Homo sapiens: one gene and its partners. The protein of the gene in region 2 purifies or fractionates together with the protein of the main gene of each other region. This does not show direct contact. Each region holds a gene or a part of one and is shown on either strand. Other genes may lie near its edges. The genes, in order: CDIN1, UBN2, NASP and CABIN1.

Region 1 (4,192 bases), on a different chromosome or scaffold from region 2:
CGTGACTCAGGGGTGCTTCACTGATGGGAAGGTTTGTGGCTTCTCAGACATGGTCCACAGAATCACAAATCTTTCTGTTCTTGCCAGACTTGTTTTGACAAATCTGAGATCATTTGACACTAATCATAGAGCTCTTTGTAAAATAAAGGTACCAATGGTTTATGTTCCAATTACAGACAAGTGTTTGTGATTAAAAGTTACTAAGAAACCCTCGGTTAAATGGAAGCAAGTTCTTCTGCAGGTGTGAGCTTCGTCTTGTATGCATTTGAGCCTGGGGACCCACACACCTGTGCACAGGTAGCCTAATTCTACTGACCCCAAAGGAATCTCTTCTTTGGGGATGCTGAGGAAGAAGAGAACATCTGCAGCTGATAAATCTCAGTGGGCCTGGTGCTCCAAGGCTTCTAATTATACCCAGTTCCTACATCTTCTAGAACAAGATCAAGTGATGAGCTGCCATCTCATGGTTCTGTACCTGCACAGAGGGGAATCCCAAAGTTTTAAATAATCTTGAATACAACTTGGCTACCCCACTAATGTGGATCCCCAAATAAACCAGGCCGTGACATCCAATTGAACTTGTCCCTGTGCATACAGTATCTCGCAGCCCATCCTGTATTGTTAGTTTTGGCAAGTACACTACAGCATATAATAAATCATGGAAGGCAAAAGCTTTTTGGCCTAGCATGGTTCAGCCTGCTGTAATGTTAGAATACAGAAAGCAGTTCTGTTTTTAGACATGCTTTTACTAACCCAACATTCATAATTTATTATTTCACTGTAAAATTCCTGCAACACTACACCAAAAGTAGTGCTGCCCTTTAATTAAGTGCCCTCGGTAGGAAAAACGTGAAACTGATGTGCAAAACATCTCTCTGTGTGCAGTGATTGATAGTGATTACATCTTTATGAACCCAGCCTAAAGGTCTCAACTTCCTGATGGGTGAAGTAGTCCATAGGGCCACTTCCTGAGTCTGCCTGGCGGGGATCAGTCACTGCTAACAAAATTGCAGATAATTCAGAGGGCACAACTTAGAAATGCTGAGGTTTTATTAAGCCCGTAGCGATCTATACTTTGTCACAAGCCTATATGACCTTATTCCTCATTTCCGTAAGCACCAATGACCAAACTTTATGCTGTGTCCACACTTAAAGAAGTTGTAATGCAGAGAGTAAAGGGACCCAGTGTGTCATATGGATGACAGGAGGTACTTCCAGCCCAATGGGTGCATAAGTAGAACAGTATAGCCAGAAGAGGACCATAAGTTGTTGCATTTTTTTAAATTCTGTTTTCAAACATTCTTTTATTTTTCTTAGTTGCTATTAGGCAAGTTTAATTTTTTAAATAGTACCATTAAATGTTAGACTTAAATCCCAAGGCTGGCATTCCCCAGCTCATTCCTGTTTGCACTGTGAATCTGTCCTCCATCAGCTAGGTAGTCACATCAGCCCAAGCTCATAACACCTTACTGAAAGGTAAGATTCAGAGTTTCCATATCTGAAATACTTCAGGTTTCTGGAAAGAAAGGGAACACATCCATCCGAGAAGGTAGTATGTGTGTTATGTGAACTCTTTGGTATAAGTTTGGCTATTTTCAGTCACAATGGTAGCAACCAAAACAAAAATTTTGTGCAGTCCTGTCATTTAATCATCTTATCAGTGCCCCAAGGTGACTTTTTTCAAGAGCTCTGTTGATACCATGTGTGTGTGTTATTTTCTGGTGTTTTTACAGATTTGGGCCAGGCTTAGTCATCTATTGGTATGGATTTATCCAGGAGCTGGACTGCAACCGGGAAAGGGGCATCCTGCTCAAAGCCTGTTTCCCCACGAACATTGTCACCTTATGCCACAGCATAGCTTGACCCTGAAGATCCTGGAAGAGAAGCTGGGAGGAAAAGGTGAATCCGGAAGCAATTTTACTTTCCTGCACTGTAAGATCCTGGCAACATCTGCCCTGAACTTCAGCTGAACTCTTGCTGCCCGTAGTCACACCACTACCTCTTTAGACAAACATATCAAGAGTTTCTGTTTTCCTTCATCCCTTGCTGATGTGAACAGCCAAGAACTACAGACACAACCCACTCATTATCAGCATTTCTGTCTCTGTCAAACAATTAGTTTATAGATAGTCATAATCTTTCTTTCTTCCGGATGGTTTATCCTTGTATGCTGAACAAAAGAAAAAATGTGAAGACTGAAAGGTGTGATTTTTCAATTCTCCTCCCAGTTACCGAATCACCCTCTTATTTTTTTTTCCCTAAGCCTCCGTTCACTGTCTCTCCCTCTCCCTTTCTCTTCATGTGCACTCACAGAGACCCAGCATTGCATTACCATCGTGGAATAATCTAGCGCAAACCTAGGAAAGCTGAAGCCACAAAGTCCAAAGCCACCTTTGTACTCACCTGCAGAGCTCCAGAAGACCTTGATGGCAGCCTGCCTATGCTGTGTGTTTGCTATATTCAATCTTTACGGCTTCCTGACTTCTGTGACAGTAAGCCAAGTGCAAAAATACACTTGATGAGAATTTCCTCTTTTAATAATGTTATTTGAACACCACATATTTTAGATTTATCTTATTTGAAAGTATTAGTTCCATTGTGCCTGGAAACCACACTCCTTTAGATTGGGGGCCGAGAGGCGACAACCCAACATTGAGGAGAGTTTATTTTTAAACATGGCTAGTTGTCAGTATGTACGTGAGCTAGTATTTTTATGAGTCGAGTTTTTTAAAGGCACATTCTGTATACTGCTTAGTATATGCATTTTATACCATGTAATTATAAAACACTCGAGTAAGTTCAGCATTAGAAATGTTTAGCTTTGTATGAACTGAGTGTGCCAGAAATAAACCTGGAGCAATTTTTAAATAAGCAAAATAAAGGAGATTTTTCTATTTGTTCACTTTAATTTATTCACTTTTGTGTACTTTTATGTACTGCAAATCAGATTTCAGTCTAAAGCGAAACATCAGTAAGTTAATAATAAACCTATCTTTTGGGAAGTTGAATATTAATCTGTACCCAAAACGTATTTAGTAAAATATTTGCCCCCGCCACCCTGCCATGCTGACATAACAACTTTTATAATGTTGAATAGATGATATGGGAAATACTAATAACAACAATGTAATTTTTGCAGACAGCTTTAACTTATATACATTGCTTGATTTTTTTCAAAAGACTAAATATGTCATTTATACTTTGTTTATTTTCTACCAAAGAAGGTTTGTAAAAATATGCCTGCTGCTTTTCCTTTTGAAGGACACAAACCTGGTCCCAACATGTGTGGATTTTAACTCTGAGTGGGGTGCATTAAATCAAAAGAGAGAGGCAGAAGATGAAATGCTAAAGAAGGGTCAGGCAAACTTCTGTTTCAGTATAAAATTCATCATGCAGGCTTCTGAGTGAAATAGAATGATTTGAAACCACTACTGTATTGCCTGGATACACACACACACACACACACACACTTTATACAAAAATGTTAAAAGCAGGTTTCCTGGCATGTTCTAAACTGTTTTTTCTTTAGGAATAAATTACATTTATCTGCACAGATGTTGAAAATCCTGTTAAACCCTTGTCAAGGATTTGTTTATTTTACATTAAACAAATTTATTATGATGAACGTGAACAAATAAATTAAAAAATAAAAAAGGTACTTGCGTTTTGTATTTATTCTTTTACCTGCTGCCCTGACATAATGTGTTGTGAGAAGGTATTGGTGTTCCTAGCAAAGGCACTACCTCCTCTTTATGAATGAGGCTTTAAAATCTGGCCCTTAAAAGTGAGAAAGAACCCAACAGTAAACTGTACACACTACAATAAGGTTACAAATTAGTCAAAAGTAAGTTTTTCACACATAAAAACTAATGTGATAATTATACTACTTTTGAATTGGAGCTGTATGGGAGAGAAGAGAGTAATGTTCCCAACTGGAAGCTTAAAGTCTCCTTGGTTTGTTTCTTTTTCTGTTAAAAATACTTGTCTGTGTTCCATCTCTATGCATTGTCTGCTTGCTGGTTTTTTTAGTTTAGACAATATAAACATCAGCCCCAGAAAGTAGACACGGAATGACAACTTATTTTTATTGCTGTCATCATTAGAACATTAACATTAAAGCCAAATCTTGTTTTATGGTGCATTCTGCACACTATGCTAATGAATTATGCAAAGCCAGAAAGCAGGAGCGTGT
Region 2 (3,573 bases):
TATATATTCATGACACAATGGTTTGTATTTTACTTTTCCTTACATTCACACGTGTGACACAAGTAACATTAAAAAAAATCCTATTAATTGAACATTCTCAGTACTGTTGCAATGTTTGATAAACTCACCTTGGGTGGCTTGTGCTTTTGGTTGTCTGTAATATCATCTTCTTCAGTATCTGAAGCTTGGCGAAACTGTAGAGTGCCAGTGTTGATATAAAAGCCTCCATATTTTGTTGTTAGAGAAGCGGGAACTAATTCATCATACTAGATTAAAAAACAAAAAAGTTTCCGCTATATCCTGTTGTCTTTAACTCTATAAATGTCAAAGAAATTCATCCACCATGGCAGCATCTCCCTTAAATCCTAACTGCAACACAGACTGCAATAAGGATGTTTGTAAAATAAATTTAGAAAAGGTTACTATCTGAAATAAAAATTAGTTCTGATAATTTGGTGTAAGAAAAAAACTTCTGAAATAATAAAGTATATTCTAAATATATCACCTGCTAAGAAAAATTTAAGGATCACTGCTACTATTCCTTTTTCTTCCTTCCCACTGCTACTATTCTTAATGACAAATGGTTCTGATGAGAAATCAAGTTTAAAAAGATGACCAAGTGTCCAGATAAGGAGTAAATTTCATTTCCTACCATAAGGAGATTTTATAAAGAATAACAAAACTGGCTGGGTGCGGTGGCTCACGCCTATAATCCCAGTTGGGAGGCTGAGGCGGGTGGATCACCTGGGGTCAGGAGTTCGAGACCAGCCTGGCCAACATGGTGAAATCCTGTCTCGACTGAAAATACCAAAAATTAGCTGGGCGTAGTAAGCCCAGCGACTCAGGAGGCTGAGACAGGAGAATCCCTTGAACCCAGGTGGTGGAGGTTGCAGTGAGCCAAGATTGCGTCATTGCACAAGAGTGAAACTCGGTCTAAAAAAACAAAAAACAGCAACAACATTCTGTTTAACAGAAACTATTTTTTCTGTCTTAGCCGTATGCTTTTAAGTGGAGAAAACTTTAAAAACATTTAATTTAGGCCGGGCATGGTGGCTCACGCCTATAATCTCAGCACTTTGGGAGGCCAAGGCAGGTGGATCATGAGGTCAGGAGTTCAAGACCAGCCTGGCCAACATAGTGAAACCCCATCTCTACTAAAAATACACACACAAAAAATTAGCCGGGCGTGGTGGGGTGGGTGCCTATAGTCCCAGCTACTTGGGAGGCTGAGGCAGGAGAATCGCTTGAACCTGGGAGGTGGAGGGTGCAGTGAGCCAAGATCATACCACTGCACTCCAGACTGGGTGACACAGCGAGACTCTGTCTCAAAAGAAAGAGAAAAAGAAAGAAAAATAGCAAATATATTTTAGAAAAAGAATAGCACATATTTTAAAAGAATTGAATAGCATAGAAAAACAACTGCCCAGTTCAGAAAGCACATACTTGAGGACCTAGAATGAGGAGGTACTTTGCTTGGAGCAAGGAACTCAATTTGTTTAAATCACACTTATGTTCCCAAAGGCTAGATCTCAAGGTTTATCATTACCTCACCTGATAAAGATGGCTAAAAAGCAAACACTAAGTGAAGGACAACTTAACCAAATGAAGGTGTTCAAAGTAGGAAAGAAAAAAGGAACTTATCTGATTGTAGAAAGATATCTGTTACCTGGGATCTCTAGACCTCTACTTCCGAGGTTCTTCACATCATCTAACTAGTCTTTAAGAAAGTCAGATTTTTAGGGAAACTTCATTGCCATGGGCAAGGAATATACATATCCTATTAGTTACTGTAAGAATATAAGGCTAAGTACAAAAGTTGTAATTTTAACCTGTATCTTTTTCAATTATATGGAGAATGGAAAAATGAAGAGGTTCCAGTTTAATCACACTGAATTAAAAAGAAATAAAATGATTGAAGAAAGGTAAAAGAAAAAAACTACTTTCTTATCGTTCTACTTGATACACTACTAGAAAGATCTACTACAAACATCTACACTATTATAAAGATCTTACAGAAAAGGGGCAGTACCATCTGCAAATAAGTGATATGAGGGGTGAGGGATTAAATGTGAAAAGACAGTAATAATTTCGAAAACTAACTGTGATAAGATAAAAACACCTGTACTCTTTGCCTACATTGTTTTGTACAATGCTTTATAATTTTCAATACTTCTTCATATAAATTATTTCATTTGGTCCTCATGATACCCTTGTGAGGTAAGAAAGGCAAATATTACTCCCACTTTAAAGATGAAAGCCAGGTAAGCACCTTACCAAAGCAATTCTATACATATGTTTATGGCAAAGTCAGTGGCTGCCTCCAACCCATCTAATTTATTGTAAAATAAATTTAGAAAAGGTTACTATCTGAAATAAAAATTAGTTCTGATAATTTGGTGTAAGAAAAAAACTTCTGAAATAATAAAGTAAATTCTAAATATATCACCTGCTAAGAAAAATTTAAGGATCACTGCTACTATTCCTTTTTCTTCCAAGCAGCTTCACGTGGGAGTGAAACATGTTCATCTCCAGGTATACAGGGCAATTCTGATGTGCTCAAAGTCTGTTTTCTTATGCAGTATTCTGCTGAGCTTTTCCTATCCGAACACTCTTCAGAGGAATACACTCTTTGTGAATATTTAGTTCAGTCATTTCAGTAGAATGTGTTAAGAGGTAACACACTGAACTTAAGAATCAAAAGGCCTGGATTTAGATTCTTTGCCTATGACTAGCTACTGTGACCCAGGGAAAATCACTTAACATCAAATTTGGAGGGTTATAAAACAGGGACAATATTACTTCACAAAGTTCTAGTGAAATTTAAAAGAGACTATCTAAATAAAAGTGTGTGAATCATGCCTGGTATCATTATTTATTAATAATAAACAAAACATTTTCTTTCAGCTCTTTTACAGTTTGGTAGCATAAATATGAGACTAAAAATAATCTTCAAAAGCATTTATTTTCAGGTATTTATTTTTAGTAATTCGTGCATGATTCAGAATATATTAAACAATATGCCAACACTGAAAGCTTACTGGCAATACAATAAATGAAAAGAACAAGAATCATTTGGTTCGACCATAGTTGTTTTATGTCTGAATTATCTCATTAAAAAAAAACAAATAATATGTCAAGGGCAAAGACACTAAGTTATTTTGTTAAGTCACGCAACCTGCATTTCAGTTCAATTTCTTCTTATAAAACAGGAACCTACCTTGTTCAGAAACTAGTTGTATGACTAAGCAATTCGTATCTACAAAATTTATCCTGACTTATTAAAACAGAAGTTTTCCACTTTTCTTCACCACAGCCCAAGTGGAAAATACATTACCCATCAAAATCTAGCACACACATACACACACAATAAAAACTGTATAGTCTACCAATGACGTACTAGTTCCTATTCTATTTGATTTCATTTTCTTTAAAAATACCAGTCATGCCCTTTAAGTTGATATATAAGCCAATTATGGGTTACAAAAGTCAGCATGAAAATATCCTAAATGCTATAAAAGGAGATATTAAAAATGCTATTTATAAAAGTTACATACTATATGATTTTCTCTATAA
Region 3 (2,249 bases), on a different chromosome or scaffold from region 2:
CCTCTACCGGAAGCACAGGGAGATAGGGTTGGGGTGAGGAGATGTGAATGGTAATCACTGTACAAGTTTGAATTCCTGTGTTTGAGTCAGGAAACAGAACAGGAGTTCAGAGTTCCCTGGCTGAGGGCAGTGGCTCACGCTTATAATCCCAGCACTTTGGGATGCCGAGGTGGGTGGATCACGAGGTCAGCAGTTCAAGACCAGCCTGGTCAGTATGGCAAAACCCAGTCTCTACTAAAAATACAAAAACTAGCCAGGCGTGGTGGCGGGCGCCTGTAATCCCAGCTACTTGGGAAGCTGAGGCAGGAGAATCACTTGAACCCGGGGGGCAGAGGTTTCAGTGAGCCGAGACTGCGCCACTGCACTCCAGCCTGGGTGACAGAGCAAGACTCCGTCTCAAAACAAAACAAAACACAACAGTCTCCACTCACAAATCCTTACCACCTTTGGAAAATAAGTGTCTTATATGCACCAACTATAGGGAGGGGTTTATAGGAAAGGGATTAAAAATGGAGTCTGAGGAAACGGTAGAAAAGAAACACCACATGTAGACTTACCTTCTTTCTGACAAGGTGGGAAATATCAGTCACACAATTTGATGAGGAAGCACCGTCTGTTGGCTTTCTACTGGCAATCTGGCAAAATAAGCCCTTATTAGCAATTGTACAAGCTATATGAGATCAATGCTGAGGCTTTTATAATTTTTTAGTTTTTCAGAGACAAGGTCTCACTATGTTGCCCAAGCTAGTGTTGAATTCCAAGCCTCAGGCAATCTTCCTGCCTTGGCCTCCCAAAATGCTGGGATTACAGGCATGAGCCAACACTGAGACTTAATGTAAGTGACCAAAAAACCACCTGAATACGCACCATGGAGACTGAAGAGCCTCCTCCACCAGGAGTGAAACCTGAAGTAGAACTCTCCACCTGCGAGAAATGACAAATCCAAATTAGTTTGAAGATAGAACCCAGGCCGCCCACAGCCTTGTAACAGGAACCCATCACCATCCAAACAACTGACTAAGACCTGAAATGCTAGTGGCCTCCATATAGTATCCAGTTCTACCCCTGGCCCACCTATGCCTGTCTAGCAGCCACCCAGAGCATAGTCTATACATAGAGTGTACATAATAAACTAAATCTTCTATATCCTACCTGCAGGGTAAAAAGGTCTGTGCCAAAAACAGAACCAGGCAATTTGTGGTGAATGCCTCTCAATGCCTCATTAATTTATGCAAATGAGTTCTTGGAGATGGAAATAGCAACTTACATTTTTTAAGAAATGTCTATTTTTCCAGTACTGTCAGAAGTATATTTTACACATATGTACTACAGGTCGGGCATCCCATCCCTTAATCCAACAATCTGAAACTTTTTGAGGACTGACTGACACTCAAAGGAAATGCTCTCTGGAGCATTTCAGATTTTAGATTAAGGGTATCCAACTGTTGAGTATGATGCAAATATTCCAAAATCCAAAAGCATTTGAAATGCAAAACACTTCTGGTCTCAAGCATTCAGGTAAGGATACTCAACCTGTATTATCCCCATTTTACAAATCGGTCAACTGAGGGAGAGAAAGGCCCATGGCCACACGTAAGTATGGAATTAAAACCCAGATAGTCTGGGGCTCCAGGGTATTTCCTCTTAACCACTGCATTACTTGATAGGAATAATTAGATGAGCCCACCAACTCCCTGGAAACCAAGTCATGATGAAAAGTTCCTGGCAAATAGAACATTAACATAAATGGTACCAAACATGCTATTATCAAAATGTTAACGGAACCAACCAGAGTAGCTTTCAGAGCCAGTTCAGCTACATTCCCACTACGCTGAGACTCCTTTGCATCTTCTATCTTCTCTCTAATTTCGGGTAGCAGTTCCTTTAGTTCCTCAATTTCTTTCTTGTATTCAGCAGACGATCCTTCAGCCTCCTTCACCTGCTCGTTTAGTACAGCTAAAAAGAATAAAGTGATTAGTAATGGCTCAAAAAAGAACTGTTTTCTTCCTTGTTAATTGCTGGATCCAACATCACCATGAAGCAGCTCGTCTTCACTCACCCATTCTGTTCTCAATGACTTCAATAGATTTGCTGAACTGTGCCACTGCCTCATCATACTGAGAGTTGTACCCATAAGCCAAGCCCAGCTGGTAGTGGGTCTCTGCAAGGAGACGGTCGTGGGCTTCCAGGTACTGTTCCTGCAGGTTAAGGCAGGACTGGAACTCCTCCACAGCTTGCACATAGTTTTC
Region 4 (3,573 bases), on a different chromosome or scaffold from region 2:
TTAAAATGATGGCCAGGCTTGGTGGCTCATGCCTGTAATCCCAGCACTTTGGGAGGCTGGGGTTGGAGGATCCTTTGACTCCAGGAGTCCGAGACCACCCTGGGCAAGATAGTGAGACCCCCATCTCTAAAATAAATAAATAAATAAATAAATAAAATAAAAATTAGCCAGGCATGGTGATATGCACCTGTAGTCCCAGCTACTGAGCAGACTGAAGTGGGAGGATCACTTGAACCCAGGAGTTCAAGGCTGCAGTGAGCCATGATCACACCACTGCATTCCAGCCTGGGATACACAGTGAGACCCTGTCTCAAAAAAAAAAAATTTTTTTAAAGACAAATCAAGTGGAGAAAAAATGAGGAGACAGATGATTGATCTAAACAACATAACAGAGGAGATGATATAGATGTATATCAAACTCCACACCTTGATAACAGAAATGATATATTCTTCTCCAGTGCTCACAGCACATTCACACACACACACACACACAAAAACTGCTCATGTCACAAAGAAAACACCTTCCATCAAGTAAAGATACTAAAAACAACACTTGCCAATCATAATGCTTAAAACTAGAATTTACTAACACGACCATCACCACCAACAGAAGAAAGGTGTGTCTATCTAAAAATTTGAGAATCTCCTGATAAACAACTTCCAGATAAAAGGAAATGCAATGAAAATGTTGGAGAAATTTAAAGAAATACTAACGGACAGACATGGTGGCTCATGACTGTAATCTGCCTATAATCCCAGCACTTTGGGAGGCTGAGGCAGGAGTTTGAGACCAGTCTGGGCAACATAGGGAGACCTCATCTCTACAAAAAAAATTTTAAAATTAGCTGGGTATAGTGGCACATGCCTGTAATCCCAGCTACTTGGGAGGCTGACGGAGGAGGATCATTTGAGCCTGAGAAGTTGAGGCAGCAGTAAGCAGTAATTGCACCACTGTATGCCGGCCTGGGTGACAAAGTGAGACCCCGTATCAAAAATAAAAAAATAAAAAATAGATACTAACAAAAAAACACACATCACATGTGAAAACACAATGTAATCATCTAAGGGAAAAATAATTACATGATTATCTCCACAGAAGGGAAAGTCTGACAAAATTCAATATCTATTCATAATAAAAAATACTCAGGAAAATACAGAAATTGAGATACTTTAATATATAAATACACCTTAGTCCTAAAGCCAAAATCTTATTTCATGGGCAAACCTTATTTCAGAGGCATGTCCATTAATTTCAGAGATTAATATCAAGAACAAAGCAAAAATGTCCACTATCTCTGCTACTATCCACCTGTGCAATATTAGCCAATAAAATTAGAAGAGATAAATCAATTAGAGATATAAAAATGGGTAAAGGCCAAGCACAGTGACTCACGCCTGTAATCCCAGCACTTTGGGAGGCTGAGGTGAGTGGATCATCTGAGGTCGGGAGTTCAAGACCAGCCTGACCAACATGGAGAAACCCCGTCTCTACTAAAAATACAAAATTAGCTGGGCATGGTGGCGCATGCCTGTGATCCCAGCTACTCGGGAGGGTGAAGCAGGAGAATTGCTTGAACCCAGGAAGCAGAGGTTGTGGTGAGCTAAGATTGCACCATTGCACTCCAGCCTGGGCAACAAGGGCGAAACTCCGTCTCAAAAAAAAAAAAAAAAAAAAAAAAGGGTAAAGAAAAGCTATCACTAATTGTAGATAATATGATATACTACCTGGAAAACCCCAAAATCAATGATAAAATTTATTCAATAATAACTCAGCAGGCGGGGCATGGTGGCTCATGCCTGTAATCCCAGTGCTCTGCGAGGCTGAGGTGGGTGGATTGCTTGAGGTCAGCAGTTCGAGACCATCCTGGCCAACACGGTGAAACCCTGTCTCTACCAAAAATACAAAAATTACAGGCTCACGCCTGTAATCCCAGCACTTTGGGAGGCCAAGGCAGGAGGATCAAGAAGTCAGGAGTTCGAGGCTAGCCTGACCAACATGGTGAAACCCTGTCTCTACCAAAAATACAAAAAATCAGCCGGGCATGGTGGCGCATGCCTGTAATCCCAGCTACTCAGGAGGCTGAGGCAGGAGAATCACTTAAACTCAGGAGGCGGAGGTTGCAGTGAGCCAAGATTGCCCCACTGCACTCCAGCCTGGGCGACAGAGTGAGACTCCTTCTCAAAAAAAAAAAAAAAAAAAAAAAAAAAACAACACTCAGTGAAGTTGCACAATATAAGATTAATACATAAAAATCAATAGCCTTCATATATACAAACCATAAAAGAAGACATTATGGTAGAGAAAAATCCCATTTGCAATAGCAACAAGATCATTAAATACTTAGGAATAAAGTTAATTAAAACTGTGCAAGAAAAAGTTTAAATCACTATTAAAAGACACTAAAGTTAACTTGAACAAATGAAATGACATCCCCTGTTCCTGGATAGGATTCAAAAATATAAAGATGTCAGTTCTTCCCAAGTTAATTTATACATTCAATGCAATCCCAATACAAATACTGACAAGATAATATTGACAAGTTGATACTAAAATTCATATGGAAAAACAAAAATTTAAGACTAGGAAAACAATGAAAAAAAAACTGTAAGGGGGGATAGGTATAACAGACATTAAAACCTACTGTACAAAGCCTTCATAATGAAACAGTGAGGTACTGCTGCATATGTACACAAAAAGATGAGGTCCAGAATTAGACTCAAGTACATATGGAAATAAAAAATATGGCAAAGATGGCATCTCAAATCACTAGAGTCAAGATGAACTTTGTATTAAATACTGCTGGAACAGTATTCACTGTTGGAAAAAGATAACTCACAAGAATAAACTTGCAAATGAATTAGAAATCTAAATGATAAAAAATGAAACCATACAACTACTAAAGGAGATACTGGTGAATTCCTCTTTAACCTTTGTATTAACACTTAGTATTACGTAGTAGAGAAGGGCCAAATATGATTTAAAATTCACAAACAGTAAAAGAGTGATACATTTAACTACATAAAAATTTAAAAATTTTTGCATGACAAAAAAAAATTTAAAAACTCAGAAAAAAAATTAAAAGCTAACAAATTGGGAGAAAATATTTGCAACATATACCACTGACAAGGGACTAATACCCCTAATATACAAACAGCTCTTAAAAACTGAGAAACAGGATGGGCATGGTGGCTCACACCTTTAGTCCCAGCACTTTGGGAAGCCGAGGTGAAAGGATTGCTTGAGGCCAGGAGTTCAAAACCAGCCTGGGCAACACAGAGAGACTCCATCTCTACAAAAAATTTAAAAATTAGCCAGGGCATGGTGGTACACATCTGTAGTCCCAGCTACTCAGGGCAGTTGAGGTAGAAGGTTGAGGCTACAGTGAGCTGTGATCACGCCATTGCATTCCAGCCTGGGTGACAAGAGCACCATACTATTTTAAATAAATAAATAACGTTTTACAACTGAGGGACACAGCATTACTTACAATAGTCGAAAGGTGGCCTCCTTTAAGCTGAAGCTAAGAAAAAAAAAAAAATGGTGAAAGCAACCCAACTGTTCATGACAGATGA

The links.
Region 1: the proteins of UBN2 (region 2) and CDIN1 purify together in Homo sapiens (affinity purification with mass spectrometry, with the first as the bait; one large-scale study listed by BioGRID). This does not show direct contact.
Region 3: the proteins of UBN2 (region 2) and NASP purify together in Homo sapiens (affinity purification with mass spectrometry, with the first as the bait; one large-scale study listed by BioGRID). This does not show direct contact.
Region 4: the proteins of UBN2 (region 2) and CABIN1 purify together in Homo sapiens (affinity purification with mass spectrometry, with the first as the bait; one large-scale study listed by BioGRID). This does not show direct contact.

What each region holds. Positions count from the first base shown.
Region 1 is NC_000015.10:36,806,591-36,810,782, forward strand, and holds the end of CDIN1 (CDAN1-interacting nuclease 1), read left to right. Parts: intron 1-1,733; coding exon 1,734-1,863; 3' UTR 1,864-3,654; downstream 3,655-4,192. UniProt on the Homo sapiens protein: Plays a role in erythroid cell differentiation.
Region 2 is NC_000007.14:139,255,181-139,258,753, reverse strand, and holds part of UBN2 (ubinuclein-2), read right to left. Parts: intron 267-3,573; coding exon 129-266; intron 1-128.
Region 3 is NC_000001.11:45,615,012-45,617,260, reverse strand, and holds part of NASP (nuclear autoantigenic sperm protein), read right to left. Parts: intron 2,249-2,249; coding exon 2,060-2,248; intron 1,957-2,059; coding exon 1,790-1,956; intron 925-1,789; coding exon 868-924; intron 636-867; coding exon 558-635; intron 1-557. UniProt on the Homo sapiens protein: Component of the histone chaperone network. Binds and stabilizes histone H3-H4 not bound to chromatin to maintain a soluble reservoir and modulate degradation by chaperone-mediated autophagy.
Region 4 is NC_000022.11:24,017,757-24,021,329, reverse strand, and holds part of CABIN1 (calcineurin-binding protein cabin-1), read right to left. Parts: intron 1-3,573. UniProt on the Homo sapiens protein: May be required for replication-independent chromatin assembly. May serve as a negative regulator of T-cell receptor (TCR) signaling via inhibition of calcineurin. Inhibition of activated calcineurin is dependent on both PKC and calcium signals.